Homo sapiens: one gene and its partners. The protein of the gene in region 6 purifies or fractionates together with the protein of the main gene of each other region. This does not show direct contact. Each region holds a gene or a part of one and is shown on either strand. Other genes may lie near its edges.

Evidence for each region.
Region 1: the proteins of SH2D1B (region 6) and PTPN18 purify together in Homo sapiens (pull-down; one study listed by IntAct). This does not show direct contact.
Region 2: the proteins of SH2D1B (region 6) and INPP5D purify together in Homo sapiens (pull-down; one study listed by IntAct). This does not show direct contact.
Region 3: the proteins of SH2D1B (region 6) and PRMT3 purify together in Homo sapiens (affinity purification with mass spectrometry; one large-scale study listed by BioGRID and IntAct). This does not show direct contact.
Region 4: the proteins of SH2D1B (region 6) and DAPP1 purify together in Homo sapiens (pull-down; one study listed by IntAct). This does not show direct contact.
Region 5: the proteins of SH2D1B (region 6) and ROBO1 purify together in Homo sapiens (affinity purification with mass spectrometry; one large-scale study listed by BioGRID and IntAct). This does not show direct contact.
Region 7: the proteins of SH2D1B (region 6) and TGFB1I1 purify together in Homo sapiens (pull-down; one study listed by IntAct). This does not show direct contact.

The regions. Positions count from the first base shown.
Region 1 is NC_000002.12:130,365,712-130,369,937, reverse strand, and holds part of PTPN18 (tyrosine-protein phosphatase non-receptor type 18), read right to left. Parts: intron 806-4,226; coding exon 737-805; intron 174-736; coding exon 111-173; intron 1-110. UniProt on the Homo sapiens protein: Differentially dephosphorylate autophosphorylated tyrosine kinases which are known to be overexpressed in tumor tissues.
Region 2 is NC_000002.12:233,062,901-233,067,126, reverse strand, and holds part of INPP5D (phosphatidylinositol 3,4,5-trisphosphate 5-phosphatase 1), read right to left. Parts: intron 1-4,226. UniProt on the Homo sapiens protein: Phosphatidylinositol (PtdIns) phosphatase that specifically hydrolyzes the 5-phosphate of phosphatidylinositol-3,4,5-trisphosphate (PtdIns(3,4,5)P3) to produce PtdIns(3,4)P2, thereby negatively regulating the PI3K (phosphoinositide 3-kinase) pathways.
Region 3 is NC_000011.10:20,488,374-20,492,599, reverse strand, and holds part of PRMT3 (protein arginine N-methyltransferase 3), read right to left. Parts: intron 1-4,226. UniProt on the Homo sapiens protein: Protein-arginine N-methyltransferase that catalyzes both the monomethylation and asymmetric dimethylation of the guanidino nitrogens of arginine residues in target proteins, and therefore falls into the group of type I methyltransferases.
Region 4 is NC_000004.12:99,836,909-99,841,134, forward strand, and holds part of DAPP1 (dual adapter for phosphotyrosine and 3-phosphotyrosine and 3-phosphoinositide), read left to right. Parts: intron 1-3,380; coding exon 3,381-3,514; intron 3,515-4,226. UniProt on the Homo sapiens protein: May act as a B-cell-associated adapter that regulates B-cell antigen receptor (BCR)-signaling downstream of PI3K.
Region 5 is NC_000003.12:79,757,717-79,761,942, forward strand, and holds part of ROBO1 (roundabout homolog 1 isoform a precursor), read right to left. Parts: intron 1-4,226. UniProt on the Homo sapiens protein: Receptor for SLIT1 and SLIT2 that mediates cellular responses to molecular guidance cues in cellular migration, including axonal navigation at the ventral midline of the neural tube and projection of axons to different regions during neuronal development.
Region 6 is NC_000001.11:162,394,707-162,398,932, forward strand, and holds the end of SH2D1B (SH2 domain-containing protein 1B), read right to left. Parts: coding exon 4,217-4,226; intron 2,610-4,216; coding exon 2,574-2,609; 3' UTR 562-2,573; downstream 1-561. UniProt on the Homo sapiens protein: Cytoplasmic adapter regulating receptors of the signaling lymphocytic activation molecule (SLAM) family such as CD84, SLAMF1, LY9 and CD244. In SLAM signaling seems to cooperate with SH2D1A/SAP.
Region 7 is NC_000016.10:31,470,222-31,475,097, reverse strand, and holds the start of TGFB1I1 (transforming growth factor beta-1-induced transcript 1 protein), read right to left. Parts: upstream 2,947-4,876; 5' UTR 2,910-2,946; coding exon 2,897-2,909; intron 2,891-2,896; exon of another isoform or gene 2,875-2,890; intron 2,696-2,874; exon of another isoform or gene 2,649-2,695; intron 1,894-2,648; exon of another isoform or gene 1,848-1,893; intron 1,658-1,847; coding exon 1,542-1,657; intron 1,417-1,541; coding exon 1,364-1,416; intron 1,264-1,363; coding exon 1,121-1,263; intron 947-1,120; coding exon 859-946; intron 749-858; coding exon 643-748; intron 536-642; coding exon 341-535; intron 1-340. UniProt on the Homo sapiens protein: Functions as a molecular adapter coordinating multiple protein-protein interactions at the focal adhesion complex and in the nucleus. Links various intracellular signaling modules to plasma membrane receptors and regulates the Wnt and TGFB signaling pathways.

The DNA of each region.
Region 1 (4,226 bases), on a different chromosome or scaffold from region 6:
ACCAGACAATAACTGAGGAAGTGGGTACTAGTATGATGCCCATTTTTACAGGAGAGGAAACCTCTCCCCTTTCAGGAGCCCCTTTACCTCCTCCTCCCCTGTCACAGTACCTTCTGGAATGTGACCTTGAGGGTCCTGAGCATGATGTCCTCATTCAGCCACTTCTCCTTTATCTGAGTAAGGGGGGTGGGGCAAGTAAGAAGAGGGAGGAGAACAAAGATCATAGGTACCAGAAGACATTTATAGAAAGCAAAGCATTCCTGATTAAAAAATCAAATACAGAAAACATTTTAAAAATTCATATAGCCCAAACTTTCCCCAAAGCTTTCATTAAGGAAACATTTGACACAGGAGCAAAAGAGGAACTATTATAAAAACACAAGCCCTTTTGCAATGAAAAGAGATGTCTTTTGTTCTAAAATGAAACTTTTATTGCATTTATTAAGTACTAACTGTATGTATGACTTGAGAGAGTTCCCCAAGCTCTTTTGAAATGGTAAGAGAAGTAAGAATTTCAACAACCTAACCAGGCACATTTACATGACAGAGATTAACTGATTGTAGCCAAAATAAAAATGCAAAGGCTATCCCTATAGTAAGTTCTAACTATTTGCAGGCTAACACCAGAGGGTTTCCTGCAGTATGAGTGGACTGTGGGTTAAATCATTCAACCTTTTAGGCCCAACCCAAAGCCTTTCCACCCTGGGAATCTTCCTTGAAAACTCCCACAGCTCACCAGAGTGATGCAGAAAAGCCCAGTCTGCAGTGGCTCCTGCTCCTGGGCCCAGTACCGCTCACACCTTTTCTGCAAAAGGTAAGGGAGAAAAGGCAGGGAGTGAGAAGAGGGAGTCAGCTTCAGAGCTAGCTCAATCATGCCACAAGACACCCCAGGTGCTCGTGGTGGAAGCACAGGCAGCTATACTTATAACCTATAACAGACGCCAGCCAACAGAGCCATCAGATTAAACACATGCAGACTCAATGGAGGTGCGCTGCTGACCATGCAGGGGAAATACAGTCCAGGATACCCTCCCACTGTAAGCAACTAGAAACTGGACAAAATACATGAGCCACTATTTTCAGACACTGGTTGGCAGGTGTTGCAGTACTGTGGTCACTGAACAGACCACTCCGGCTTATTGCATGGAAGTGTCACCAGGCTGTAAGACATGAGTCTAATGATCCCACTGAGTTGAGCCAGAGACCATGGCTCAAGGAGGCAAAAGCAGCTAGAATTTGCAGGGCAGAGTCCTGGAAGGAACAGAGGTATGCAAATAAAAACAAAACAATAACTTGCATAGAAGTCCCCTCCTTGATTCTTTGGTTGAATAATCTGAATATATACAACATGAAACCCCATGAGGCCAGGCAAGAATAACTTACCATGAAAGAATAGTAGGGATCTGTAGGATGAACATTTCCTTGAGCTCATGATGAGAAAGAATTCACATTCCCTCTAGCTAGAGTGTAGAGGCATTATCAACTATAAGGGGCATTTAGTAGGGAACCTAGAATGACCACACATTAGAAGTACGGCTAAATTAATTCTAGAACAAAGGCTACTTGATCAACCATCCAAAAGTTCCTGAAAAGGCAAAACACTCTAAAGAAAACAATCCAACACTTACCTGTGCAAAATTCAAAATATCAAGCATCCAATAAAATTTTGCTGGACATACAAAGAAGCAGGAAAGTGTGACCCATAACCAGGAGAAAAATTAGTCAATAGGAAAGGGCCCAGAAATAACAGTTCAGGAAAGAAGCAAAAATCTTAAAATGGCTATTACAAATACACTCAAAGATGAAAAGGAAAACATGAACATGATGCAGAGTGGAATGAAAGATACAAAAAATAACCTGAATGGAATTTATAAAGAGGAAAAATAAAATATATGAAATGAAAAATCCACTAATAGCAGGGTAGACACTAGAAGAAAGGATCAATAGACATGAAAACATAGCAATATAAATAATTCAAAATGAAATGAAAAAAATGAAAAAGAATCAGTTCTCTGTAGAAATATACCAGTCTAGTGTATGTGCACGTGGAGTCCAGAAGGAAAGGAGAAAGGGGGATAACAGAAACTTTATGTAAAGAAATAATAGGTGAAAATTTTCCCAAATTCGATGAAACTATGAACCCACAAATCCAAGAAAGTCAATGAACCAGAGGGAGAATAAACCTAAACCTAAAGAAAGTCACGCCAAGGCAGATCATGATCAAATTACTGAAAAAGAATGAAGAAGAGAAAAAAAAATTTTTTTTTGAGACCCTTGCTCTGTCACCCAGGCTTGGCGTGCAGTGGCTCAATCTCGGCTCACTGCAACCTGCAACTCCCAGGTTCAAGCGATTCTCCTGCCTCAGGCTCCTGAGTAGCTGGGATTACAGACACACACCACCATGTCCAACCTTTTTTTGTATTTTTAGTAGAGACAGGGTTTCACCAGGTTGGCCGGGCTGGTCTCGAACTCCTGACCTCAAGTGATACACCTACCTTGGCCTCCCAAAGTGCTGGGATTACAGGCATGAGCCACCACACCAGGCCCCAGAAGAGAAAATCTTAAAAGCATTATGCACAAAAGGACACATCACATACTGAGGAACAAAGTTAAGAATTATAGCAACATTTTGTCAGAAACGGCAAGTCAATGCTATGATATCCTAAAAATGCTGAAAACCTTTTCAGACAAATGAAAGCTGAGGGAATTCATCACAAACAAATCTGCATTATGAGAAATATTAGAGTAAGCTCTTCAGATGCTTACAGACAGTGGCTGCTCCAGCTATTTGAGAGGCTAAGGCAGGAGGATTGCTTGAGGCCACTTCAACACCAGCCTGAGCAACATAGCCTGTATCTTAAAAAAAAAAAAAAAAAAAAAAAAAAAATTAAAATTAGCTAGGTGTGTTGGCAACATAGCTAGCCTGTATCTAAAAAAAATCTTTTTTAGTTAGCTGAGTGCAGTGGCACACCTGTACTCCCAACTACTTGGCAGGCTGAGGTGGGAGGATTGCTTAAGCCCAGGAGTTTGAGGCTGCAGTGAGTGGTGACTGCACACTGCACTCCAGCCTGTATGACAGAGTGAGACCCTATCTCTTAAATAAATAGAATAAGTAAGCTCTGCATACAAAAGGAACGTGATACAAATGGAAATACAGATCTACACAAAATAACAGGGAGAAAAGTAAGTGGCTAAATGTAAAAGATATTTCATTTTAAACATCTTTAAAAGATAATCTAGTGAATTTTATCAAACAAAGAGGAATTAATACCAGCCTTTCACAAACTCTTGCAAAAAACTGAGAGGAACCATTTCCCAACATATTGTATGAGGCTAGTATTACCCTGGCACCAAAACCAAAGACATCACAAGAAAAGAAAACTACTAACCAATATCTCACAAACATAGACACAAAAATTCTCAATGAAGTACTAGCAAAGTATTAAACACCATGACTAAGTGGGATTAATTCCAGGAATGCAAGATTGGTTCAACATATGAAAGTCAATGTCATACACCATATTAGTAGAATACAAAACACACGATCATCTGAATAGATGCAAAGAACAAAATTTGACAAAACTCAACAGCGTTTCATAAAAAAGTTCATTAGAAACTCAGTGCCCAGGATTTTTATTGGGGCACCGTCTGCACAGAATGTAGGCACACTCTGCCTAGCCTGTACCAAAATGTCAGACTACCAGCAGGAGAACAGGTGTTCTGCATAAAGCATATTGTTTGTATTAACAGTTCAGGCATAGTGAGCCACTGTTATCAGAAACCTAGGTTTCTAGAGGCCACCCAAGAGTCAACCTTACAGGAAGGCCTTTCTAAGCATAAACATTTATGCTTGCCATGTTTAACTCTTCTGCACAGCAGGGGACCTACCCAAAATAGCCAAAACAATCTTGGAAAAAAGAACAAATTTGGAAGACTCATACTTCCTGATTTCAGAACTTCTACAAAGGTATAATAATCAAAACTATGTTACACTGGCACAAGGATAAACACATCAATCAGCTTAATAAAATTGAGAGTTCAGAAATAAACCCTTATATTTATGGCCAATTAATTTTCAACAAAGGGGCCAAGACGGTTCAATGGGCAAAGCATAGTCTTTTCAACAAATGGTGCTGGAACAACTGGATAGTCACATGCAAAAGAGTGAATGTGGACCCCTATCTCACATCACATACAAAAGTTCATTCAAAGTAAATCTGAGACCT
Region 2 (4,226 bases), on a different chromosome or scaffold from region 6:
TCACAACATTGTGAATGCACTAAAAGCACGATAAAGAATTGTATACCAGGGCCAGGTGCAGTGGCTCACGCCTGTAATCCCAGCACTTTGGGAGGCCTAGGCGGGCAGATCACCTGAGGTCAGGAGTTCGGGACCAGCCTAGCCAACATGGTGAAACCTCGTCTCTACTAAAAATACAAAAATTAGCTGGGTGTGATGGGAGGCACCTGTAATCCCAGCTATTTGGGAAGCTGAGGCAGAGGATTGCTTGAATTCAGGAAGCGGAGGTTACAGTGAGCCAAGAACACACCATTGCATTCCAGCCTGGGCAACAGGGGTGAGATGAGACTCTGTCTCAAAAAGAAAAAAAAAAATTAGCCGGGCATGGTGGCATGCGCCTGTAATCCCAGCTACTCAGGAGCCTGAGGCAGGAGAATCACTTCAACCCGGGAGACAGAGGTTGCAGTGCGCCGAGATCATGCCACTGCACTCCAGCCTGGGCAACAGAGCAAGACTGTCTTGGAAAAAAAGAAAATTAAGAATTGTACACCATAGAAAGGGTGACTGTATGGAATATGAATTATACCTCAATTTGAAAAAATAACCCAACGAGTGGGCTTTGGCCTTGTCATCCTCATTCCACCTGTGAAGATGCTGGGTTGACACAGGAAGGTTAGCATTTTGCAAATGCAGCCCAGCAGAGCCAGCAGACCACAGAGCCTTGCTCCTCAGGAGTGCACAGCATGGCACGAATTATTGAGGGAAGAGCAGAGCTCCTCTCACTCTATGTCTGGGGTGGGGAGAAATGCCTGGCTGTGAGGACCACATGTCATCATGACGCAAGGGTTCATGTGCAGGGAGATGGCACCAATTGATTGAGAGGTGCTGATGTGAGGCTGCGTGCAGCGGCTCACACTTGTAATGCCAGCACTTCGGGAGGCCAAGGTGGGAGAACCACCTGACTCCAGGAGTTGGGGGCCAGCCTGGGCAACATAGCAAAACCCTGTCTCTACATAAAAAAGATTAGCCAGGCTTGGTGACTTGCACCTGGAATACCAGCTACTCGGGAAACTGAGGCAGGAGGATCGCTTGATCAAGCAAGGCTGCAGTGAGCTGTGATTGTGCCACTGCACTCCAACCTGGGCAACAGCGAAAGACCGTGTCTCAAAAATAAAAAATAAAATAATAATAATTTTAAAAAAAGGCCAGGTGCGGTGGCTCACACCTGTAATCCCAGCACTTTGGGAGGCCGAGGCAGGTGGATCACGAGGTCAGGAGTTTGAGACCAGCCTAGCCAACATGGTGAAACCCCATCGCTACTAAAAATACAAAAATTAGCCAGGTATGGTGGTGGGTACCTGTAATCCCAGCTACTCAGGAGGCTGAGGCAGAAGAATTGCTTGAATCCTGGAGGTGGAGGTTGCAGTGAGCCAAGATCATGCTATGGCACTTTAGCCTGGGCGACAGAGCGAGACTCTGTCTCAAAAAAAAAAAAAGAAAGAAAGAAAGAAAGAAAGAAAGAAAGAAAGAAAGAAAGAAAGAAAGAAAGAAAGAAAGAAAGAAAGAAGGAAAGAAAGAAAGAAAAAGGCTGGGTGCAGTGGTTCATGCCTGTAATCTCAGCACTTTGGGAGGCTAAAGAGGCCAGATCACCTGAGGATAACACAAAAAAAAAATTAGCCCGGTGTGGTGGCAGGCACCTGTAATCCCAGCTGCTTGGAGGGCTGAAGTAGGAGAATTGCTTAATCCTGGGAGGCGGAGGTTGCAGTGAACCAAGATTGCACCACTGCACTCCAGCCTTGGCGACAGAGCAAGACTCTGTCAAAAAAAAAAAAAAAAAAAACCCAAGAAGTGCTGATTGTGTTCATGAATTTATGAATTTAACCTACCAGGTAGACAAACATGCAAAGCATCAAAGCTGGAGCCTAATCTCTGGACCCGAAAGGACTTTTCACGGGGGCTGAGCGTAGGCACAGAAAACCTGGAGACTCCATTTTAACATGCTTGCTCTGCGTCACTTCACATGGAAGATACAGTTAGTGAGTGAAATACATAGGCCTTCCAGGGCACATACCCCTTCCTGGTCTTGCATGCAGAGAGAAAACCCGGCACAGTCAGCCTTGGATAAAGCCCCTTGGCCGGCTTTCTGGTGTGAGCCAGATGTCAGTAGCTCTGGCTACGACCTGGGCCAGCATTTTTTCCCACTGACTGTCAATATCAGATATGAAAAATAGTGCCTTATTGCATTTGCACAAAAACAATTAACAGTGTCTATTTTACTGAAGCTTCGAAAGGGAGACTTAGCCACCCGCTCACACCACAGCTTTCCAACTCTGTTGGACTCTCTGAGATTAGGAGTTTCGCCCTCCCAAGTCCCTTCTCTGCGGCTCCATCACGAGAAGTTCCCTCTCCAGGCTCTGCCCCGCCCCACACAGGCCACCTTATGGTCTCTGTTTCTCGCTTCCAGGAAGATCATGCATGCAATCCTGGCCCTTTTATTTGTTAGTCCTGTAAACTAGGCCTGTTCCATAAACCGCTCTGCACCTCGGTTTCCCCATCTGTAAAGTGGAGATAATAAGACCTCCTTTGAAGGTCTTCGTGGACATCAAATGAGTCAATATAAGCCTAGAATGGTGCCTGGCACAGAGCTCTTTGGAAGTTGCCTGCTGTTATTAGGCGGAGCAGGTTGGTAACAACCTTCTGCTGGTGAAGCCAGGTCTGTCCGGTGCACTGTCTACACTGCCCCTGGGAAGGGGTAAGCAAGACCCTGCCATGGTGCCTGGGTGGCCTGTGGAAGGCCACATGTGGAGGGAAACCAAAACCACACTGTCAGCTGTGGCCAGACCAGGCACTGGGTTCTGAGCCAAAGGCAGCCACGTGCCTTCGCCTCCCCCATGAGGGAAGCCCCCTCTCTCTGGAGTGGTTGGCTGGGAACGCCGCCCTCCTGCGCAACTCCAGGCTGGATGGCAGACAGCTGAGCCGGCCACTCTAGGCCTGATCCCGGGCCCCAGCTGCTCCTGCAGAGAGGGCAGCCTATATACTGACATTGGGCCTTTGATCAGCTTTGCCTGTGCAGATTGCACAAGGGGATGCCGGCTCGGCCAACCCATGGACCCTTGCATTGACTGACCCCATTCCCAAGGCATCTCTTCTTTGCAGCATAAGGCCCTGCCAGGTGTGCTGGCCCCTGCGTGGCAGGAGAGGGCATGAGCCTGACAGCTCTTAATGTCTCCCACCCACGATGTACCCAACGTCCCCTGGAGGCACCCACAGACTCCCCCCGGAGCAGGGCCAACTCTGCCGGGGGATTTGAGTGGGGACCAGGTGGGGACAACATAGGCTCTACTTAGAAGAGCCCCTGGCTGAAAGACGGCAGAGTTGGACCCAAACCAGGCAGCCACCTGCTGGAGTCTTCCCACTGCAACTGTCTGTGCCCCGAGATGGAGCCCAGGCTCCCTGTCAAGCAGGGCTTTCCAAGCTGCTGAGGTGAGATCAAAGCTTTCCTGCCCAGTGGTAGGTGACGGGGCTGACCTCTCTCGAGGAAATGCAGGGTTTGCTGGGTGTGCGCAGAATGTGCACTCCTAAGTCACATGGGTGGCACTGAACTGTAGCCCTGTCTTTTGATGTCCAACCCCCGCTCAAGTCCATTTACATAGTCAAATCCTGTTCTCTTTCCTGAGCACAAAGGCCCCTCCCTGGTGAGGCTGCTCTCAGTTCCTGAGACTCCAGGCACACTTGCCCAAACCATCAGGTGGAGACTCCGGCCGTTGTCCCCTTGCCCACCAGAGGGGGCCTGGGAGGGAGTGCTGCTGGGGCCCAGGCAGGATGAGGTCAGGGCACCTGGGTGATCTGAGGGGCCATGGGGCAGGTATACTTTTCCCATGGACTTTGCTAGGGCAGGAGGGTGAGTGTGTGGCTTCCTTCTGCAGTCACTTCTAGAGCAGGGTGGCTCCAGGCTTCCAGGGCTAGGGGGGCAAAGCCTGCTACTTCTGCAGCCGCAGAAAACCCGGCTGCCCTGCACACCCCTCAGCCTGGGACTGTCTGCCTCTGCCGTCTCCGTCAGGCCACGGCGACTCTGCAGGGAACACAGAAAACTAAGGGTGGTAGGGTTTGTTTTTCAAGAAGTTCAATCTCTTTGCTTTAAATGACTGGCTTTTTTTTTTTTAATGCCCTTCCTGCCTCTTTTGGTGTCAAAGGCTGCTTTCTTTCAAGAAATGAGGTGTTGGAAGATGACAGTTTGTTATCATTCA
Region 3 (4,226 bases), on a different chromosome or scaffold from region 6:
TTTGAAAAATCATGGTAAAGCTAATTTGTGTACTCTGCTACTTTTGTTAAAAATGTGACATTTTATTGATCTGGTAGGGTTAATATGGATTAGGTCCAAACCAAACTCAATATTTAACCCTGAGGTTCACTGCAATTTAGATACCAAGAGAGAATCAAAATACTAGTAATAATTCTGCCAAATAGAATTATAAAACAATGTAGTACTCAGCCACAGATTATCATAAAAACCACGTGGTTAATTAGAATATTTCTAAATATAACTTTATCAGTTGATTTCCAGATACTTATGATACCCCTTCACAGACCAATTCAACTGTTTTCTTATTTATTCCTGTATGCCTGTCTTGTTCACCACTATACTCTCAGTGCCCAGAGCAGTAACCTGGCCCATAGGATACAATACAATACAATATTTGATGAGCAAATGTGTTTATTATACATTCTGTTATGTTAGTTACGATAGTATATTACAGTTTGCCTTATACTGCAATTTATTTAAGAGCAAGGCATATGTATAACTCACTTCTATGCCCCTTACCCAATACAATGTTATATAGTAGGTTCTCAATAAATTTTAGCCAAATTAAAATTTTTAGTCTTCAGTCTCAAATATGGCTAGCTTTATTACATAGTCAGTATACTTTATTAAAGCATTGACTAACTGAACTTGAATGGAACTAATAATTTTTAACTCTGAAAAGCATGGAACATGTGGGACAAATATGGAGAGGAGAGAGCTAGAAAAGATCTAATTCTGTATGTAGGAAATGCAGAAGTCTCAGCCTAACCCCCAAATTACGCATTTTCAGGTGAGATCCAAACCCACACAGCAAAAGCTTAGAGCATTGAACTAAAATTTGAATCACTGCTGCAAGTCTCAGGATTAACCTCTGGATAAAACATGCATGGAAAAAAAACCGAAACCAACAAGTAAAGGCCTAGAGAACTGACGTGAGATTGGAAAAATCTGTAAAAGTCTCAGACTAATCCGTAAACTAGGTATGTGTAAGACAGCCTCAAAACAGCATAACAAAGGCTTAGAGAATGTGACTGAGACTTGGTCAACTGTCTGCTCGGACACTAAGACAGAACTTATGGTCTGATTTTAACTGGGCTTGACTGCTAACAACAAACATCAACATCCTTAAGATTTTAACAAGACACACAGTTTACACAACATAGCATGCACAACATCTAAGGTGCAATCTCAAATTACTCAACATACAAAGAATCAGGAAAATTGAACAACTCTCAGGAGAAAAGACAAGCCACCTCTGAGATAATCCAGATGCTCAAACTATCAAGCAAAACTTTAAAGCAGCAATTATAACCATGTTCCAACGGTGACAGAAAACACAATGGAATGAATCAAAAGACAGAAATTCTCAGCAGAGAAACCATAAAAAAGCACCAAATGAAAAATTTTCAATTGAAAATTATAATAACTGAAACTTCCGGGTTGAATAGCAGAATGGAGATGACAGGGAAAAAATCAGTGAATTTGAAGATTGATAGAAATTATCCAATTTGAAGAAGGGAAAAAGACAGCAATTAAAATGCATGTTATAGAACCTTGGAGACCTATAGATCTAACGTGTCATTGGTGGTCCAGATGGAAAAGAAAAAGACACTGATGGAGAAAAAAAAGTTTTAAAATTCTATATCTAGACAGAATGAATGAAGGCATTTTCAAGTCAAGGAAAAGTAAAGAAATTCATTGCCAATAGACTTCCTCTAGAAACATTTTAAAAGAAGTTCTTCAGAAGGTAAACTGGAACAACAAGAACAGAAAACCCATAGTTCTAAAACATCCTTTTGTTTTCAAAATTTTTAGTGTACCTTTTAAAATTGTTTTAAACTCATGTAACAGCCTCTCATCTTTCTGTAATTATACTTCTATAACTGTTATATTTATTGCCAGTCTTTTTTTAATCAGAATTAGAAATGCTTCTCTTCATGTATCTGAAGATGTCACAAAAGCTGCTTTTAAACCCAAATTTTCACAAAAGCTCTTATTAGCTTACTAGGATTTATTTTTCCCCACATTTTTTGGGGGGCCTCCCAAAGCACTGGGATTACAGGTGTGAGCCACCACGTCCAGCCACACATGCTTATTAATCAATCTCCAAATCTGTGTATGAATTTCAGTTAAAAATTTCCAGCCCTTAATAATATAGTGAAAGAAATACTGGGAAGTTCTGGGTAACCAAAAAATAAGTTTTAAGACAAAGAAAAATGACAGATATAGTTAACTTCAGTTGTAAGCACTGGAAAGAATCTATGACAAATATCTGAAATTGCATCTATGTGAAATGCCTCACAGTATCTTTGAGTCTTCAAGCACAGTCACATTTCTAATGAGGTTTGGTTTACAGTAATACTCAGTTCCACAGCACACATTAAACAGAAAGCAGAAGCATGAGGAGAAGTTAGGAAGGAATTCACCTAAAATTCAAACTGTGTGCAGATAATCTATCTACTCACTAGACAGCATTCGTACAGTTGAGAAAGTGGAAGATTGCTGCTCTGAAAAAAACAAAGGGAGTTTCTGGTTTTAAAATGGGTGTCTACCCTCAAACACCAACATGATCTAGAATGCCCCTTAAAGAGACAGGGTTTGTGGTGTTACCTTTTTTTCTTTTCTTTTCTGTGTGATTCTTATTTTTAAAAATTTTTATTTAATTTTAGAGATGGAGTCCCGCTATGGTGCCCAGACTGAAATCAAACTCCTGGGCTTAAGGGATCTTTCTGCCTAAGCCTCCTGAGTAGCTGGGACAACAGTTGCATGCTACTAACTCTTAATTAAAAGAGATTAAGAAAAAAAAAAACCCCTTCAATTTGAAACATAGTAATATAAAACCAAATGAATTATGATTAGTGTTTTTATTTCTGCAAAGCTATTAAATAAGGAATAATGATATAACCAAATATCAGCTGATTTAGGAATAAATGACTTATTTTGTCAGGAAAATATAAACATGCCACTATTTTCAATTACAGTTTGGCCACCTTGCTACCATCACTTTGACAGGCTATCTTAACATCTTTTAAATGTTAATTTCAATGAATATACATTATCTCTGTGGAAGTCATTCAAATATAAGAATAAACAACCATAGGAAATAATGACTAATAGGCAATGGCAACAAATAACTAACTGGAGCTACAACTTGACATATGCTCGTAAAAGATCAGAGAGGTCTGAAGGCTGACTGCAGAAGAAATTTCTCCTTTGTCTCACGTATATATCTTGTTGGGGCAATGAGAACTGCTGAGGGGGAAAAAAGCATTAAAATCTATCTGTAGGAGTTGGGTTAATCTGCAAAGGCAAGGTCACAGTTAAATAAAATTTCACTGAATTATACCACAGTCAGAAAAATTTATAACTAAAAGTTTAGTTATAAAAGTCCCTTAGAGTGAGAGAAGGGAGAATGAGTGGTAAGTAGTAAAAAAACAAAAACAATGATAGAAGAAAACAGAATGAAAGGAAACTACGTATACATAGTGAATTTCTGGGATAGCTTGATCACTCTTGATATTTTGTGAGAATCCTCGACAATTACTTTGATGCACATAGGAAAATACAAGCATGGAGCTCTGTTGTACATCTTAAATATTCCTCAGCATGTAATAGTTTCAGAACTCATCTTTTTGTGGATTTCACAAAAAGAAAACTCATGGCATTTGTAAACTGAATCATGAAAAAATCTGTTTTAAGCCATGTTTTGTTTATATGTATAAAGGTAAATGCAGTTCATTTAATATACACTCATTTGAAGAACAATGATTTGGGATAAAAAATGACTTTCTCAGGTATTTTAGTGTGATGAATATTTCTTTAAAGAGGACACATTGTGTGTATGTAATAGGATGGCAACCAATGAAATAAGATCAGACTAGACCTTATGAGGAAGAAGGAAATTAAAAATTATCATTATCACTATCACCTGCAGGGAGTAATTTATCATTTCTGTTCTTCATTGGTATCATGTTCCAACAGCATGTGGTTACAGCAGATACAATTAGGCAGCTGGCCACAGAAGTAGGAGGATAATGTGCTTTTGATGGAGTTTATCCAAGCATGGAGATAGAGTGCTTGTAATCCATGCAGCAGAATCACTATAACAAAAATACAATTCATTTTTCGTTGAAGTATTTCTTTCAAAATCTCAATATGGAATGCAAAAGCCAACTGATGAGTCTGAAGCAAGCAAAGAAAGAGTA
Region 4 (4,226 bases), on a different chromosome or scaffold from region 6:
CATTTTCTCCTTTCCTCTTCATCCTTTTTCATCCATTCCCTTGCTGCCGTAGAACTGAGGTCCTCCTTTTCCTTTTAGCTGTCAGCCAGGGGCCATTCTCAACTCCTAGACGCCACCCACAGTTCTTTGCCACATGGCACCCATGGCTGTTTACCACATGGGTGTTTGCTTTCTTGCATGCCAGCCAGAACACATCTCCCTGACTTTTTCTTCTGTGAGCAGCCAGAGAAAACTCTGTTTTACAGGGCTCATGTGATTAGTTCAGGCCCACTCAGATAATGTCCATATCTTAACATCAACTGACTTGGGACTTTATGACCTGCTAAATCCCTTCCCAGTAGCATGTAGACTAGTTTTTGATTGAATAATTGGGATAAAGTGTGTGTACTCCAGGGGCTGGGATTTGGGATCATCTTAGAATGCTGCCTGCCACAACTCCCATTCCTGGAACAGTGAAAATCTACAGGCCTACTTGAAGTGGGTGGGTGTGCGAAACAGGTAGAGGGTGATGGGGTAAGTAGGGGTCACAGAGGAAAAACAAGCATATTCATTAACATTTCTCATGTCACCCTGTTATATTTTATTTATAAATTTTCTGAATAACATAGATGAAAAAATTATTAATCCAAGATGGAATTCTGTTTGAGTGGCAACAAGAATTGTGCTTTCTCTGCTCAACAGCAAATGTTAAAAGTTCATCTAATGGTTAAGTTGTAGATGCTTTATTGCACACATCAGAGGTCCTCAACCTTTTTGGCACCAGGGACAATTTTGCCACAGACCGGAGCAGCGGCAGATGGTTTTGGGATGATTCAAGTGCATTACATTTATTGTGTGTTTTATTTTTGTTATTATTACACTGTAATGTATAATGAAATAATTATACAACTCACCATCATTCAGAATCAGTGGGAGCCCTGAACTTGTTTTCCTGCTACTAGATGGTCCCATCTGGGGGTGATGGGAGACAGTGACAGTTCGTCAGGCATTAGATTAACATCAGAGGCACACAGCCTAGATCCCTTGCATGTGCAGTTCACAATAGGGTTTGCACTCCTATGAGAATCTATTGCCTCTACTGATCTGATAGGAGGTGGAGCTCATTGAGAATGCAAACAATGGGGAGCAACTATAAATAAAAATGAGCTTCGCTAGCTCACCCATCACTCGTTTTCTTGCTACGTGGCTGGCAGGGGGATGGATGGGGACCCCTGGCATGAATCTTCCAAAAATGAAAAGTTAATTAACTTTTCACCTATGTATGTCTCATCTGAGCAATTAGATCATAAGCTTTTTATAAATCAATGACATACATATTTCATATACATAAAAAATAAAGAATAAATTATTGATTTTCATTGCAAGCACTAGAGAATGCTTATTAAAAAAATGACCAGCAGAGGTGACAAAAACCACAGACTAATTCAGGAGAATGACTATTTTTGTTTTATGAACAAATATTCACTTATTTGTTCATTCTTTTAATGATGAATATTTGAAAGCATTTATTCTGCACCAGCCACTTTGGTACGTGTTGTAGAACAGTGGTCCCCAACCTTTTTGGCACCAGGGGCTGGTTTTGTGGAAAATGCGGGTTCAGGATGAAACTGTTCCACCTCAGATCATCAGGTATTAGATTCTCATGAGGAGTGTGCCACCTAGATCCTTCACATGTGCAGTTCCCAATAGGGTTCAGGCTCCTGAGACTCTAATGCCATCACTGATCTGACAGGAGGCAGAGCTCAGGCAGTAATGCTTGCTCACCCACTGCTCACCTCCTGCTGTGCGGCCTGGTTCCTAACAGGTACCCAGTCTGCAGCCCCAGGATAGGGGATCCCTGCTGTAGAAGATTGAAATACCTTATTTTGGGGAATTACAGCCTCACAGAGCCAAAAAGACCACATACAAGTAACATACTACAAAGTAGAGGTTGACAAATAACATAAAAGAAAGCAAGATAAGTGTTTAGGTGGTTCAGAAGGGAAAAAGCAGTTAACTTAAGCTGGAATTATCATGTAATACTTGACAGAGGAGGTGGTACTTGAACTGCACCTTAATGAGTGGCTGGGATTTCTACCAGCAGAGACAAAGAGAAAGACCGTTTCAGGAAAAAGGAACAGTATGAACTAAGGGACAGAAGTGGAAACTCCTTGAAGAGCAGTAGATCCAGTTGGACTAGGGCAGCTGTTCTAAAGGTGTGGTCCCCAGACCAGGTGTGTCACCTAAGAACATGCTAGGAATGCACAGTCTCAGGCCCCACCTTGGATCTACCGAATCTCAATCTGCAGGGGTGGAGGTGGAGGTGGCAGCAAGCTGGGTTCTCACAAGCCCATCAGATGATTCTGAAGCATGCTAACATGGTAGCATGGGCTGCACTGAGAGTAATAGCAGGAAGTGAGGCTAGAAAGATAGAATGGGATCAAATAAAGTGGAGAGGCAGATATATATATATAGATATATATAGATATCTATAGATATATATAGATTAGATATCTATAGATATATATATAGATATATATATATTGTTTAATACTCTGCCTCATTTCAAAAATGAAGTGGAAAATGACAATGTAGGAAATTTGATATTTTATTCAGTAGGCAGTGGAACATGCACGGGAGGAAAAGGGCTAGGCTCACGTAACTAATCAAGCGACAGAGCTGAATTCTGATTGACTCCCAAACAAGCAAGGGAGAAAAGCCCAAGGCAGAGGAGAGTGTGGTGAGGGTGTCATATGTCATTTCTATCATTCCTATTCTCTGCCCTTCTTAAACTCATGCCCCTTAGCAGCATAATGTTCAAGGACTCTTTTGGTAAGTCTAGGAGTAGATAGGGAGAACAGTCTCTTGTCTTCCATTAGAGTGAAAAGTTGAGGCTGGGCGTGGTGGCTAACGCCTGTAATCTCAACACTTTGGGAAGCCGAGGCAGGAGGATCACCTGAGGTCAGGAGTTCAAGACAAGCCTGGCCAACATGGCAAAACCCAGTCTTTACTAAATATACAAAAATTAGCCAGGCATCGTGGCAGACACCTATAATCCCAGATACTCAGGAGGCTGAGGCCAGAGAATCACTTGAATCCAGGAGGCGGAGGTTGCAGTGAGCCTAGATCATGCCACTGCACTCCAGCCTGGGGGACAGAGCAAGACTCTGTCTCAAAATAGTAAATAAATAAATGAATTAATTAATTAATAAAAGTTGAAAAGAGCAAACTCTGCCAAAAGAAACTAGTGATGCTATTTAAAACTGTCAGTGGTTTCAATGATTGCCTAATTCTCAGTTCTTATAAAGGGTTAATAGTGATGCTAACATCTGAGATCATATTTCCCTTCAACAAGATATTTATTTGTTAAATAATATTAAATACTTCTTTTTCCCTTTTAGGGCCAAAGATTCTGTTAAACACTTTCATGTTGAATATACTGGATATTCATTTAAATTTGGCTTTAATGAATTCTCATCTTTGAAGGATTTTGTCAAGCATTTTGCAAATCAGCCTTTGATTGGAAGCGAGACAGGTAAGCTATGAGCAGACACTTGACTTATGAAATAATGTTTCGGGATGGAGGAGAGACAAGGCAGATTTCAATTTAAGAATGTCATTGTTGTCATTTATATTTCAGCATTATCTTGAAGAGAAAACAATGTATTTTGTATAAAGTAGATATTTTCTCAGAATGTGTTACTTAATGGATTGATTAAAAGCACACAATTTCTTTAAAATGGGCTCACCATTTTAAAATAACATATACAATACACACAAAAAGAACAAAGGTAAAAATGACTTTTTGATTACTCATAATTTCAGATATAGGCAGTTTGCATATGAGTGAGACCCACAGAAGTAAATTTTGAGCATTTTAAAAACTAAAATTCCCACTTAAATGTTCACAGAGATCACTGAATATTGAAAATATTAACTAGGAAGCACTCTCCTAAGTTATAAAATTCTGTTTCTATTGTCACGGTTTTTTAAATAAGATTTTAAGCTAGACTTAACTATGGCTGGAAAAGTTTGAATTTTCCTGTTTGAATGGTTAGAGAATTAAACCAGAAAAAAATTCATGTGTAAAGAAAAAAAACACAAAAAACAGTCTATCTTGGCACTTGAATTATCTAAGATTGAACATCTTGTTTATTTATATTATTTTAATGAAGTAAAATATCATCCCTGTATTTGTGATATAGAATCACAACACTTTTGTCCTAAATAATGATAAATCTTAGTTA
Region 5 (4,226 bases), on a different chromosome or scaffold from region 6:
AATTAATGTCAAATTGAATCCAATATTTGAAAAAGAGGACATGAATATATCTTCTCACATGAAGGAATCAAAACATTAAGGGAAGGAATTATGACCACTGGCTCAATCGCATTTTTTATAGCCCAGTGTCTTAAAGGATGATGATTACTACACTTCCATCTCAGGAAAAGAAGTTGTGGTTGAATATTTAAAGAATTCACCAAAAATAGCTTTAACTCTTCTTTTAGTTCCTTTGATGGTTCACATTGTCATTACCTTCTTGATCAGGCTGAGATTATCTGTCTTTGCAGGACATGCTGAAATCTGCAAAGTTGCAAAATTATCCTTACCAACACAATCATTAGTATAATACAACTCTGTGGCAGCTATCCACTGAAAATTAAAGCATTGATGTTATTACCATGCCCTGTAAAACTATTTTATTCATAAATTCATCTCCTTCTAATTTTACTGTGAGTCTATTCTTCCCAACACTGTCCAATAGAACTTTCTCTGATGATGGAAACCGTCTGTATCTGCTCTATCCAAGACAGTAGCCACCAGCCACATATTCATTGCATAAAATTGGCTATCTAAACTGAAACTCTAAATTAAAATAAATTTAATTTAAAAATCAGTTCCTTTGTTGCACTAGCACATTTTCAGTGTCAATAGGCACATGTAGCTAGTGGTTAGAGTATTAGACAGTACAAGTTTAGATAAATACAGTGATATATTGTTGTCATCTTTGTCCTAGTTAGTCACAGTCTGATTATTAAGATTGACACAAATAATGCTGTACTAAAGGGTAATACAGGTAAGTGCTCAGTCTTATTCAAACACGAATGAGAGAGAGATGATCTTTCTATAGGAATATGATTCAGAAGGGTCATAACAATAAAGTTATATCTTGAAGGATGAACATATTCTCTACAGAGAGAAAAGAAGAAAGGTATTTTGAGAAGACAAGAAGGGGAAGGCAATGAGTTGGAAACAGAGTGGTGTGTTGAGGGAGGGTAAAGTGTACCTTGTATTGTAAGGCAGACTATACTTAGGAGACAGGTGGGGAAAGGGAAAGAACTTAGGAAAGTAGCCTGGAGTCTATGAAAGGCAGAGTGCTGAAGAACTCAAACTTGAAGTCATATAAAAAAGGGCCAAAAAGAATGAATAAAAGCACACAATAAATTTGTTCATTTTCCAAAATAATTTCTTTCCTTTATCAGAATTGTGACAAAAACCATTAACTGGAAGAAATCAAAATTATTGGTATGAATATAATTTATATTTGGTATAGAGATTAATTTTAGGTAAGCTTATGAATTTATGCATCTGTCATTGGCTAAACCAGGCCATTTTTTAACACTCTCTTAAATTAATACCCAATATTTAAATAATCCAATACTTGTTTAGCACAAAGCATGCTTGTTTAGTATGAGGTTTTTAATTGGAGAATAAAAAGTAAATTCTTACAGAATACTTTCTATGACTGCGTATAAGTAAGTGAAGTTGTTTTACAATCTTCCTAGTTCCTCATTCCAGGGTAAAATTTAATATAATATATACAATATGATGGAATAATTTCCTTTCGAAACATTTTGTGCTTGGATTAATATTTTTGAGTGCTTATTCAAGGGTTACACATTGATCAGAAGCTGTTGGCTGTTGTGCTGAAATGTTCTGTCTCCAGGTTCTAATTCACCTGGCAAATGGTCAGTCATGCAACAGTCGTACAGTGAGTCATGCTTCTTCCTTCCAAGTACTGAAGTCCATTTCTAAGGTTTACCTTTGCTATAGTCCTATACACAAGGAAAGTTCATCCTTAGTAAACAGGATTCATTAATATACTCTATAAAGAACTAAAACTAAGTAAATGACGCTATGCATAGCTAAGGACTCATTGAACATGAGCAATTCACATACGATTTAAAGAGATTATACAGTTTGTCTTAAAAAAATGGTCTTTAATTCTGGCTAAACATAATCCGATTTTGTTTGAAGTCTTAATTAATGCTTTTCACTTTGGTTCATTAACATTGTGATGATTCAGTGAGATGACCATCCACAAACCAACCTGACAGACAATAACCAGAAACAAGTGTCTCACATGAGGACAGATGCCAACCAGCCTTATAAACAAATGGCAGTGCTAGCCCACCCACATATGGAACACTTATGAGTGGCAGTCATATTTTTCAGCACATAAAACAAAAAATCAATTCCAGGTAGATCAAAAGACCTGAATGTAAAAAGCAAAACTGAGGCGGGGAGTGGTGGCTCATGCCTGTAATCCCAGCACTTTGGGAGGTTGAGGTGGGTGGATCACCTGAGGTCAGGAGTTTGAGTCCAGCCTGGCCAATAAGGTGAAACCCTATCTCTACTAAAAATACAAAAATTATCTGGGTGTGGTGGTGTGCATCTGTAGTCCCAGTTACTCGGGAGGCTGAGCCAGGAGAATTGCTTGAACCTAGGAGGCGGAGGTTGCAGTGAGCCGAGATCGCGCCACTGCACTCCAGCCTGGGTGAGACAGTGAGACCCTATCTCAAAAAAAAAAAAAAAAAAAAAAAAAAAAAAAAAAAGCACAAGTGAAAAATTTTCAGAAAAAATATAAGAAGTATTTTATGACTTCACCATAAAGATTGGTTTCCCAAAACAAGATGGAAAAAGGAAAAATGTAATAAAAGGTAATCAATTTTAACAAAGCACAGTGTATATCATATTTGAAAAAACGATACAAAATTATTTCCTTCATTAAGAAGAAAAAAGATAAAACAGCCTAGGAAAATATATTTCCAATGCAATACCAAAAAAAAAAAAAAAATAGAATCCAGGATATATAAAGAATTTGTATAATCTATAAGAAAAAAGATAAATGTCTCACTAGAGAAATGGGTAAAAATTATGTTTAAGCAATTCACAGCAAAAAAAAAAAACCTGAATGTTCTATGAAAACATGCTCACCACACTAATAATCAGAAAAGACAAATTAAAACCATTCAACTGGCAAAATTACAAAATGTGACATTATTAAATATTCATGGGGGCTTTCACAAGTATAAGAGATTATACAGTTTGTCTTAAAAAATGGTCTTTAATTCTGGCTAAACATAATTACAAATTATGTAATTTTGCAAATTACAAATACTACAGGGTACTGTTATGGGTTTGGGGGCAAAAAAGAGAAGAAACACATTACACGTCATCAGCAATTTCACTTCTAGGCAAATATCTAAAAAGTATGTGTGCACAGTGAGACATGTGCCAAAAAATTGCTACAGTCTGTTATAGTAAGAAAAATACCTATAAATGAGAGAGAAAAACATAAAATATAATACATATTTTAATACTGTATATATACTATAATATATATGCACTATATTATATATGAAATATATGTACTATATATAAAATATACTATATATTTTTACCATACCTACTAAATATATAATAATAATATATTTAAAAATATAATATATGTATATACTTATAGTATTTATAGAACACTATATTGCAATGAATATGAATAAAGTAACTGTACCCGAAGCAACTTGAATTAATCATAAAAAAATATTTCCAAGAATGCAAACAATATTTGACAATTTAGGCTAATATTTTATTTACTTAAGACAATACTATATATGAATTAAATATGTAATATATACAGTAAACTCAAGAGAAAATGCATAGAAATAATAACAGCAAATTTACCACACTGGTTACCTCTTAGAAGGGAGATTCAATCTGGAAGAGTACCCAGAAAACTTCAATATTACATTTAATCTTTTATTACTTAACCTGGGTGGTAATTCAAGGGAACTTGTTTCACTCATTTTTGTGTCTGCTAATCAAACTTGTCATAATAATAAAAAGTCAGAGTCATTAAAAGCTCCAAGTACTCTGCACAGCAGCACCTCAACTCTAAATGCCATGTTCACATGTGATTACTGAAATTCTGCTCTTGGCAAATCTGCCTTTCTGATGCAGGACTCTTGTACTTCAGTAAGAGTGACTCATGTGATCTAATTTACTATACTCTAAGCAAATCTTTCTCTGAAGCACGGTAATCTGGGAAGACACAAAATAAGATCTAAAAAGCTTTGCAAATGGCTCCTCCCCCAAATGCTAAATTAAGTGCCATATTGATCTGACTGAATTGGAGAGCAATTGTTGTGATAAACTCCCTGTTCCTAGTTACACCTGGAATAGATTCTGTTAATATGTGGACTCAAGTGCCCCACCCCCATATATTC
Region 6 (4,226 bases):
AAATGTCAAGGAACAGATAAGTTTATTTTTATTTATTTATTTACTATATATATATTTTTTGAGATAGGGTCTCACTCTGTCACCCAGGCTGGAGTGCCCTGACATGATCTTGGCTCACTGCAACCTCCACCTCCCGGGTTCAAGCGATTCTCCCACCTCATCCTCCTAAGTAGCTGGGATTATAGGCGTGTGCCACCACACCTGGCTACATTTTTGTATTTTTGTAGAGACAGGGTTTCACCATGTTGGCCAGGCTGATCTTGAGCTCCTGACCTCAAGTGATCCCCCCACCTCGGCCTCCCAAAGTGCTGGGATTACAGGTGTGAGCCACCACACCCAGCCCAGAACAAATAATCTTTACCTGAAGAGTTGTTGCAGAAAATGGTAAAAGGAAAAAGACTTTTCTTCGCTTTATATGAACAGTGTAACCATGATTCAGTAAATTATAGTCCTATTTGGTTTATGAGTTTTAATGCAAAAATCTTAAATGAAATATTAACTTACCAAATTCCACAGTTTATGAAAAATAATAAAATATTATCAAGTGAAGCAATGCAAGGATGAAATGATATCAACAATTTTATTAAGGTAACTTACCTTTATAATGGAGTGAAGACAAAAGGAATGTGACTATCTCAATAGATTAGAGATAGAAAAAAATCACAATAAATGTCAAAATATTTCTAGTAAAAATTATAAAATAGCCTTTAACAAGGCTACAACAAACATAATGTTTAAATAAAGAAAATTTCTAAGCATTCCCTGTAATACTGGGAACAGTGTAAGAATACTCACTATCATGACTATGAACTGTTTAATGTATACAGGAGGCCCTAACCAATGGGTAAACATAAAAAATAAATGAGCATAGGTATTGCAAGGAAAGAGAAAATAAAATGTTATTATTTATAGCTGACAAAATCATTTACATAGAAAACACAATAGAATCAACAGGTAAACTAGTAGATCTAATGAGAGGGTTAACATTTCACCAACACCATATCCTATTAGAAATGTAATAAAACATAAGATATCATTTACAGCAACTAGAAATAGGAATTAATCTAACAGAATATACAAGACTTCAGTTGGGAAAATTTATGACTCCATGAAAGGGCAAAAAAGATGACCCAAGAACATGGATGTGGCATGTTTATGCATGGGAAAACATCACAAGAACGTCAGTTCTCTCCTATTTACAAATTTGTTGCAAGTTCATTAAAAATTCCAAAAAGAGGTTTTAAGCAATTTCACGTATTTATTATAAAATGTATATAGAAGAATCAAGGTCCATGAATACCTAAGCCAGTTTTGAAAAGTAAAAGAGGACATTTGTCCTACCTACCAGACCCAGGGAATAGTAGCCATAAATTGCTGTGACCCCAAATCTCACAATGCTCCACACTTTGGGGCTCCAGCCACAGTGTCTGTTCATCTGTTCATATTACCTCTAAGTCGAGAGCTCCTCTCTTTTAAAACTCTGAAGATAAGTCCAGTGGGGTGAAATACATTACTACAATTTGATGATAGGTAAGAGAAAGGGCATAGAATTTGGTATATTTCAAACTGACCAGGTCCTAATTCACATTTTGAACTAGCAGAAAAATTCAGCAAATCAATTTCAGTAAACCTTAAAAACCAATTCAACAAACCTCCCTCAGCAATGTGCTTCCAGTCAGTTTCTATGAACTAGGCACAGCTCTGGGCAGCACAAATTTCTACACACTGTGGAAGATACAAGGGAGACCCAACCGTGCTTTGATGGCACTTAGAACCTAGTTGGGAACAGAAATCACACATAGAATATTTTAGAAATCTCCACATACATCACTGTACAGAACCACATTCATGCTGTTGAAATGACTGATGCATAAGTGGAATTAAGCAAAACCAGGGAGAAAGTGTGGCTGGGGCAATGCTCACCAGGAAGTTTAAGATTAGAAAGAACCAGGAGGAGAGTAGCCCAGGCTGGAGGGAGAAGGGTGCACATGGGGGTCCAGCAGGTACAGAGAAGGTGCTGATCTGTATGCATCTCCATCACTCCCGATCCCTCACCTTCACCTGACACAAGCAGGCTCAACAGAGAGACTGGGGCAATGTTTATCATCCCACCCAACCACAGAGACAAAGAAACTAAGACCTGGAGATGGGCAGAAACGTGTTCAAAGTCACACAGCCACAGGACTGGAACTCAGGGCTTCAAACTCACAGACAAGTGTGCCCCTCCTCTGTATAAAGCTGCCCCTCTGACTGCATGGTCCAAAGGAGGGTGTCAACCATGATGTAGGGTGGTACCTTTAACAAGTCAAAGGGAAAATGTTCAGGCTGTCCCATTCCAAGAAAGAAGAGTGAAACTGGAGAGGGTTTTGAAATTGCTCCTGGTATATGTCTGGGAGGCGGGGATGTGGAGAGTGACCTCTGGTGCTGGTGGGCAGAACATCTTCAGTTACACAACCAGGAGAGTCTGAATTGTCCACTAGAGTTTGGTGCTCTGGACCTATGCCTGCAGAAGTGGGTCATCAGTGAGAACTGTTACTCATCTCTTCAACTTGCTTTGTCCGGCAGCCTTATCTTCAAGGCAAGACATCCACATAATCGCTGTTACTGTTCTTTGGAGGGAAAAAAAAAGCAGAAGACCAGCCATGAGACCACACCCAGAAGTCATATCAAACAACCCCACTCAAAGGAAAGAAGACCCCTCCCCAGGCACAGAGCCATGTTGATGCCACCTGAAAGTTGTATCTTTAAAGGCTGGGGTACTACAGGGAGCCCTCCTAACAAAATAGGAGATCTCTTTATAAGCCAAGCCTCAGACCTTCCAGCACAAGTGTCTCCATTCACCAGCAAGAAATCTGCACCTCCCTTGGAGTAAGAACATCTGAAGCTTCTTCTAAGGAAGCAATGGGAATGGGAGGAAGAGGTTGATGGGGAATATTTCCTCTTCAGTAGCTGAGAATTTTGGAGCCTGCTGTGTCAGCACTGACCCGGCATGGAAAACTGATGGAGTGAGATTCATGCCCAGGTCTTGGGGAAGATTTCTGAGGGTTCTCCTCCTGGGATTTATGATTCTTTTCTCATTGTTGAGACAAATGCTACCACCACCCCAACCAGTCCCAGCAACTCATCTGGGTTTGCCTAAGGGCTGCAGCACAGATACATTCCTGGGTTTCTAGATCTGCCACACTGTATACTTTTTATTCTATAAATTTGGGGGGGAAAGTAGCTGTGGGACTACATCTGCAGCTGGACCTATAGAAAGTGATTTTTTTGTGTCCATGAGTACACACTGCCCTTCATGGGGATGGGGGGACAGGGACACAATGGTAGGGAAGGGAGTTGTATTTTATGCTTAGCCTTGCTGGGGAAATGAGAAGCCGGCTATGGCAGCCTAAAGGGTGACTTTGCCGCAGACAGAGTAGAATGGGGATGGAGTGATTGCAGGCTCCCAGAGAACTCTCTGTCCTCTGTCCCTCTCCTAGGGAGGATATCTGATCTCATCCCATCACCTGCCACTGATAACTGCCATCCCTTTCACTGAGAATATAACCACACATTCCAACATGGGAAAACAGGATTAAGACCTAAGTGTTTCTGGAAGTCTGAGCTAAATTCAAACAACATTGCAACTGATAGTAAATTCTTTACTGAGAGCAGATTTCAAGAGTGTGGGTAAGGAAGAGTAGCTGCTCATGATATAATTTGAGAGGCTTAGGCAGGGATTCTCTGCACTCAGATTTACTGACCATCTCTCATTTTCCACTACGGCTTAATGCCTTTAAAAATGTATCTGACATAATTTGACACCCAGCACTTTATAAATGAATGCTTAGCAAATATTGAGCAAAGTGTAACAGTATACGCTTTGGGGAGGGCTTGAAGGGCTAGAGTGATTTTCTCATTTGAAAATCTGCCCATTTGCCCATTTATTCTCAAACTTGAATCGTCTGCACAAGGTCACAGAATGAATTTGAAGTCAGCTGTCTGCCCAGGAACCACTCTTGCTATCCTGGCTGCAAACGCAGCAAGCTCTCTGTCTTGGCCCTCAGGGACTAAAAGACAGCACTTCTCAACAAAATGGAAATTGCTCTTAGTAGGATGAAGCTTTTTAGAGATAATGTCACAGAAAAGAGCATTTGTCTGTATTGAGTTTACAAAGTAAGGCATTGGTGGAAATAGGATTAAGATTGCTTTCTGACCCCCACGTGAGAGATTTTACCACAAATGTT
Region 7 (4,876 bases), on a different chromosome or scaffold from region 6:
TGACGGAGGAAGAGAGAGCCTTTGTAGATGCCTGAGAGATATTGGGTGGAGCCACAGAGTGTTTTGTGAAGATCAGATGAGATGAGGGTTTGTAAAGGAGCTGGCACAGTGCCTGGCACACAGTAGGACCACAATAAATGGTAACATGGTTGGAATTTTCACCCTACCACTAACCTGCTGTGTGGTTCAGAGCTTCAGTTTCCTCATCCATAAAACATAAGTAATAATGATACCCACTTCCCAGATTAACTTACTAAAAGGGAACAGCATAAAGCCCAGCTCTCACTAAAGATGGGTCTGTGACAGGTCTCTGCCTCCCTTCTCACAAGGCTCCACTTACTTGCCCAGCAATAGGTTTATTGCAGGAGCCACAGAGGCCTTTGGCCTGGGTGGGAACACCCCGGCGGCTGAGGTCGGACTGCAGCAGCCCCAGCATGGTGTCTAGGCTGCCCTTGCCAGTCGGCTCTGGTGGGGATGGGGAGCCCTCATTTGTGGAGCTCACCACCGGTGGCTGAGTTGGCCCAGAGGCTGGAAGCTGCAGCGGGGAGGACATGAGAATTGAGTCAGCAAAGCAGCAGATGTGGAATTGTCTAGAAGGGGTTGGGGAGCCACAAATGGACACTGGCCCACTGCCCAACTCACATGGTTTTGAACGCGGAAGTCAGAGAGTGAGGCCATCAGTCTATCCAGCTCCAGAGTGGCTGAGGTGGCAGAAGCCTTTGGGAGGCCAGGAGACGGGCTGGAAGGGCTGTGAAGAACATGCTTGTGTCATCTCAGAGCCTCCCAGAGCAACGCTCCCTCTAGTGACTCAGATATCCAGGACTCATCTCTCAGCCCTGACAACGACGCCAAACTCACAGGCTGGGTCTTTTCTTATCTTCAGACTGGTCCTCCTTCTGCTCTCCTGAAGCCACCTTGCTAGATGGGAACTGAGACATGATTTCATCTGGAGAGAGGAGAGGAGGACGCTACATATAGGGCCATGCTCAACGCACCCTCACACTTGAGGCTTTAGGTCCCTTTAACTGCTACTCTGGGAAGTGTATTCCTCTTAGTCTCTGCCCCACCCTTCCCTCCCCTGCCCCTATCGCATCAAGGCCTCTCTCAGTCACCCTGGTACCTGTGATGTTGAACTGAGTGGCATTAAGTTCCTGAAGCAACCGATCTAGCTCACAGAGCCCGGTACCCAAGACACCGCTGGAAGAGGAGAATGGAGGGGCCGCCGGGGCTGCAGGCTTTGGGGACCGAGGCTTGCATACCGTGCTGGGAAGCAGAGTGGGAGCCTGGGTTCAGGGGTGGGGAATCCAAGCCTCCTCACCTGAGACTCAGTTGGCCCCCATGCCCTGGTTTCCAGGCCCCTCACCTGTACAGGTGGTCCTTGTCCCCCGAGGCTCCTGAAGACTCCCCAGACCCTGTCTACAGAGCGGAGACGCACAGGTGGGATGACAGGCCTGCACTCTGCCCCACTGAGGCTGAGATCCCCATAGACCAGGCCGAGCCTGGCCCTAGTGGCTGCCCCAGTCCCCAACATCCGATCTCACCTGTGGCTGGTGGCCATAGGATGGGGGAGGGGTGAGAGGCTCCGCAGGGCGCTCTTTGGGAGCCCCTGACCTTGGCATGTGCGAGGTGGTAGTCTCCAGGTCAGAGAGCAGGGCATCTGCAGGAAGAGGCCATCAGGGAGAGAGACAAGGGTCACGGTTAGATCAGAAGATAAGGTTCCCAGTGGGCAGTACTGGAGAAGGACAGAAGCCAGTATTAAGAGAAGAGGTCACAGGGCCAGAGCCAGGCAGAGCACTGCTCGAAGGGTAGCAAGGAATATTTATGACCAGAATATCCCAGTTGCTCACGCTTGGAGCCAAGCACAAACCCAGCCTCCTGATTATTTTATTCTCCCCATCTTCTCTGATGCAGTCAAAATGGGCTCTTCACCCAAGCCAAATTTGGCTCCCCTCCAAATTGCTCCATTGGCCCAGTGCCTGGCCCTCAGCTTTCTGATTGGACGCTCTCTCTTCCATGCTGGTTAACTCCTCCCTCTACCTACACAGGCCCCGCCCAGCCTGGCCACTCCCAGGCCCCTGAGTCCCGCCCTGGGCTCCTCACTGGCGCTTCGCTGGGACCTGCCTTCTGATTGGCTGTTTATCTGCGGTACAGCGTCAGTTACCCCTACCGAGCAGCGCCCTCTACCGCCAGGGGCCGGAAGCCCCTCTCTCCCGTGGAGCGCACAGCCTTCCAGCCCCAGGCTTCGCAGGGAGGACGAGATACCTGGGTCCCCCTTCCGGACAAGACACCTCTCTCCATCCCTGCATCCCCAGATCCGGGTCTTTTGAGCCCTTTCACTTCCAGAACCCAGAAGTCCTGCCCTCAGTCTTCGTCTCTGAGCACCCGCGTGAAACCCTGAAGCCTTCGCGGGCGCCTAGGCACTCCTGAGTTACTATTCTCTTCCTTGCCTCAAGGACCTGACCCTCACTGTGCTCAGGAGCCCTTAACTCCTCCTCTCCCAAAACTCTGGTGCAGGCAGGCCCGCTTTTTTTCTCCAAAACTTGATGCCAGACTTTCCCGTGCCCTCTACTTTCCCGGTCCCCGGGCCGAGGCCCCTTTAACCCCTCCCTCCCCAGAGCCCCGCGCCCGGGCGCCCGCGGGCGCCGCACCTCCCGTTCCATCTGCCGCAGCCTGGGATGGAGGAGCACAGCGAGGGAAGAAGGGAGGGAGCGGCCGGCCCAGGAAAGGCAGGAAGGGAGAGGCAGGAAGGGGGACGTGGAGTTGGAAAGGAGGCGCGGGCAGAGGCGAAAAGCAGAAGTAAGAAGACAGGGATGGGGAGATGCGGGAGAGCGACGGCGGGGAGGCAGCTCTGGGCAGCGGTGAGGGGCCACGGACCCGGGGATCCGGCCCCACTCACCCAGGTCCTCCATGGCGGGGCGCGGGCCGGTGGCGCGGGGCGAACAGGGCGGGGGCCGTGTCCGGTGGGGGCGGGGGGCGGGGGACGTCCGGGAGCTGGAAGCCCGGCCGTGACCATGTAAGGAAGCCGGGACCCGCTGAGATGGGGATGGGGGGGCGATGAACGGGGGAACCCGAGGTGGGGGCGTGGAAAGGAGGGAGCGCCCCGGCCCACCCGAGCCCAGCCCGCCGGCCTGCCGCGGAGGCGGCCACACCCCAGCCTTGGCCTCAGCTGCAGGGAGCCCCAGGAGGCCAGAGCCAGAGAGAAGTGGCTTCTCCAGACCAAGCCCCAGAGCCGCTCCCTAGGGAGACTTACAGACACGGACTGAGGCCCCCAAACAGACACCGCTCAAAGCTAGCGCCTGAGTCCTAGACAAGAGCCTCCCTCCCACCCATGCCATTCCTGGGAGACTTGTCCCAGACGGAATTTTTGGATTGGTAGCAGGAGTGATATTCTAAGGCTCAATTAGACCTCAGGTTCGGAGACCCTCCCATCGGAGACCCTGACAGATAAATAGAGGCCCCAAGAGGCATACATACCAGACACAAAGAAATCTGAGGGACGGGGACAGACACAGTGAACCCACCCACAGACTCTACACTAGGACCTTCCCTCCAAGACTTGGTCATGGACACACGTAAACTCGAACCCGGGCGCAAGCCCCTTGCAAATTCGGGGAAAACACTCCCAGGCAACCAACCCCCAGCCAGCCTGCAAGACAAAGCCCTTCCTCAGCACTGAGGTGGCCCAGGCCTGCTCTGAAACAGCCCTTTCCCAAGTTACTGATGAACTCAGAGCAGAAAGCAAGACACAGTCTCCAGCCACAAAGTGGCAAGGCCTTCCCTGGACTGAGACCCTGAGAAACGAGGTGGAAACGAGAGGCCATAGAGGTAGTTATGGACAGACAACTGTGCTGCAGCCACTCTTCTGGACAGATCTGAGCACTGGAATGTGAGTATCAACCCAGCAGCAAATCGGAACAACCTGGGGAGCTTTTTAAAAATGCGAGACAGGCATGGTGGCTCACACCTATAATCCTAGCACTTTGGGAGGTCAAGGCGGGCAGGTCACTTGAGGTCAGGAGTTCGAGACCAGCCTGGCCAACATGACAAAACCCCATCTCTACTAAAAACACAAAATTAGCTGTGCGTGGTGGTGGGAGCCTGTAATTCCAGCTACTTGGGAGGCTGAGACAGGAGAATTGCTTGAAACCTGGAGGCAGAGGCTGCAGTGAGCTGAGATTGTGCCACTGAACTCCTGAGCAACAGAGGAGACCCTGTGTCAAGAATAAAAAAGAAAAAGAAGAAAAAATGGGCAAACGACCTGAATAGACAGTTCAAAGAAGTTATATAAATAGCCAATGATTACATGAAAAGATCCTCAACATCATTAGTCCCCAGAGAAATGCAAATCAAAACTACAATGAGATGCCACATCATACCTATTAGGATGGCAATAACAAAAAAGACAGGTAATTAGGCAAGGAGCAGTGGCTCACACCTGTAATCCTAACACTTTGGAAGGCCGAGGTGGGTGGATCCCCTGAGGTCAGGAGTTCGAGACCAGCCTGGCTAACATGGTGAAAACAGTCTCTACTAAAAACACACAAAAAAATTAGCCAGACATGGTGGTGGGCACCTGTAGTCCCAGCTACTTGGGAGGCTGAGGCGGAAGAATCCCTTGAACCTGGCAGGTGGAGGCTGCAGTGAGCTGAGATCGTGCCACTGCACTCCAGCCTGAGCAACAGAGCGAGACTCCATCTCAAATAATAATGATAATATTTTAAAGGCCAGGCTCAGTGGTTCACGCCTGTAATCCCAACACTCTGGGAGGCCGAGGCGGGCGGATCACCTGAGGTCTGGAGTTGGAGACCAGCCTGGTTAACTTGGCAAAACCCCGTCTCTACTAAAAATACAAAAATTAGCTGGGTGTGGTGGCAGG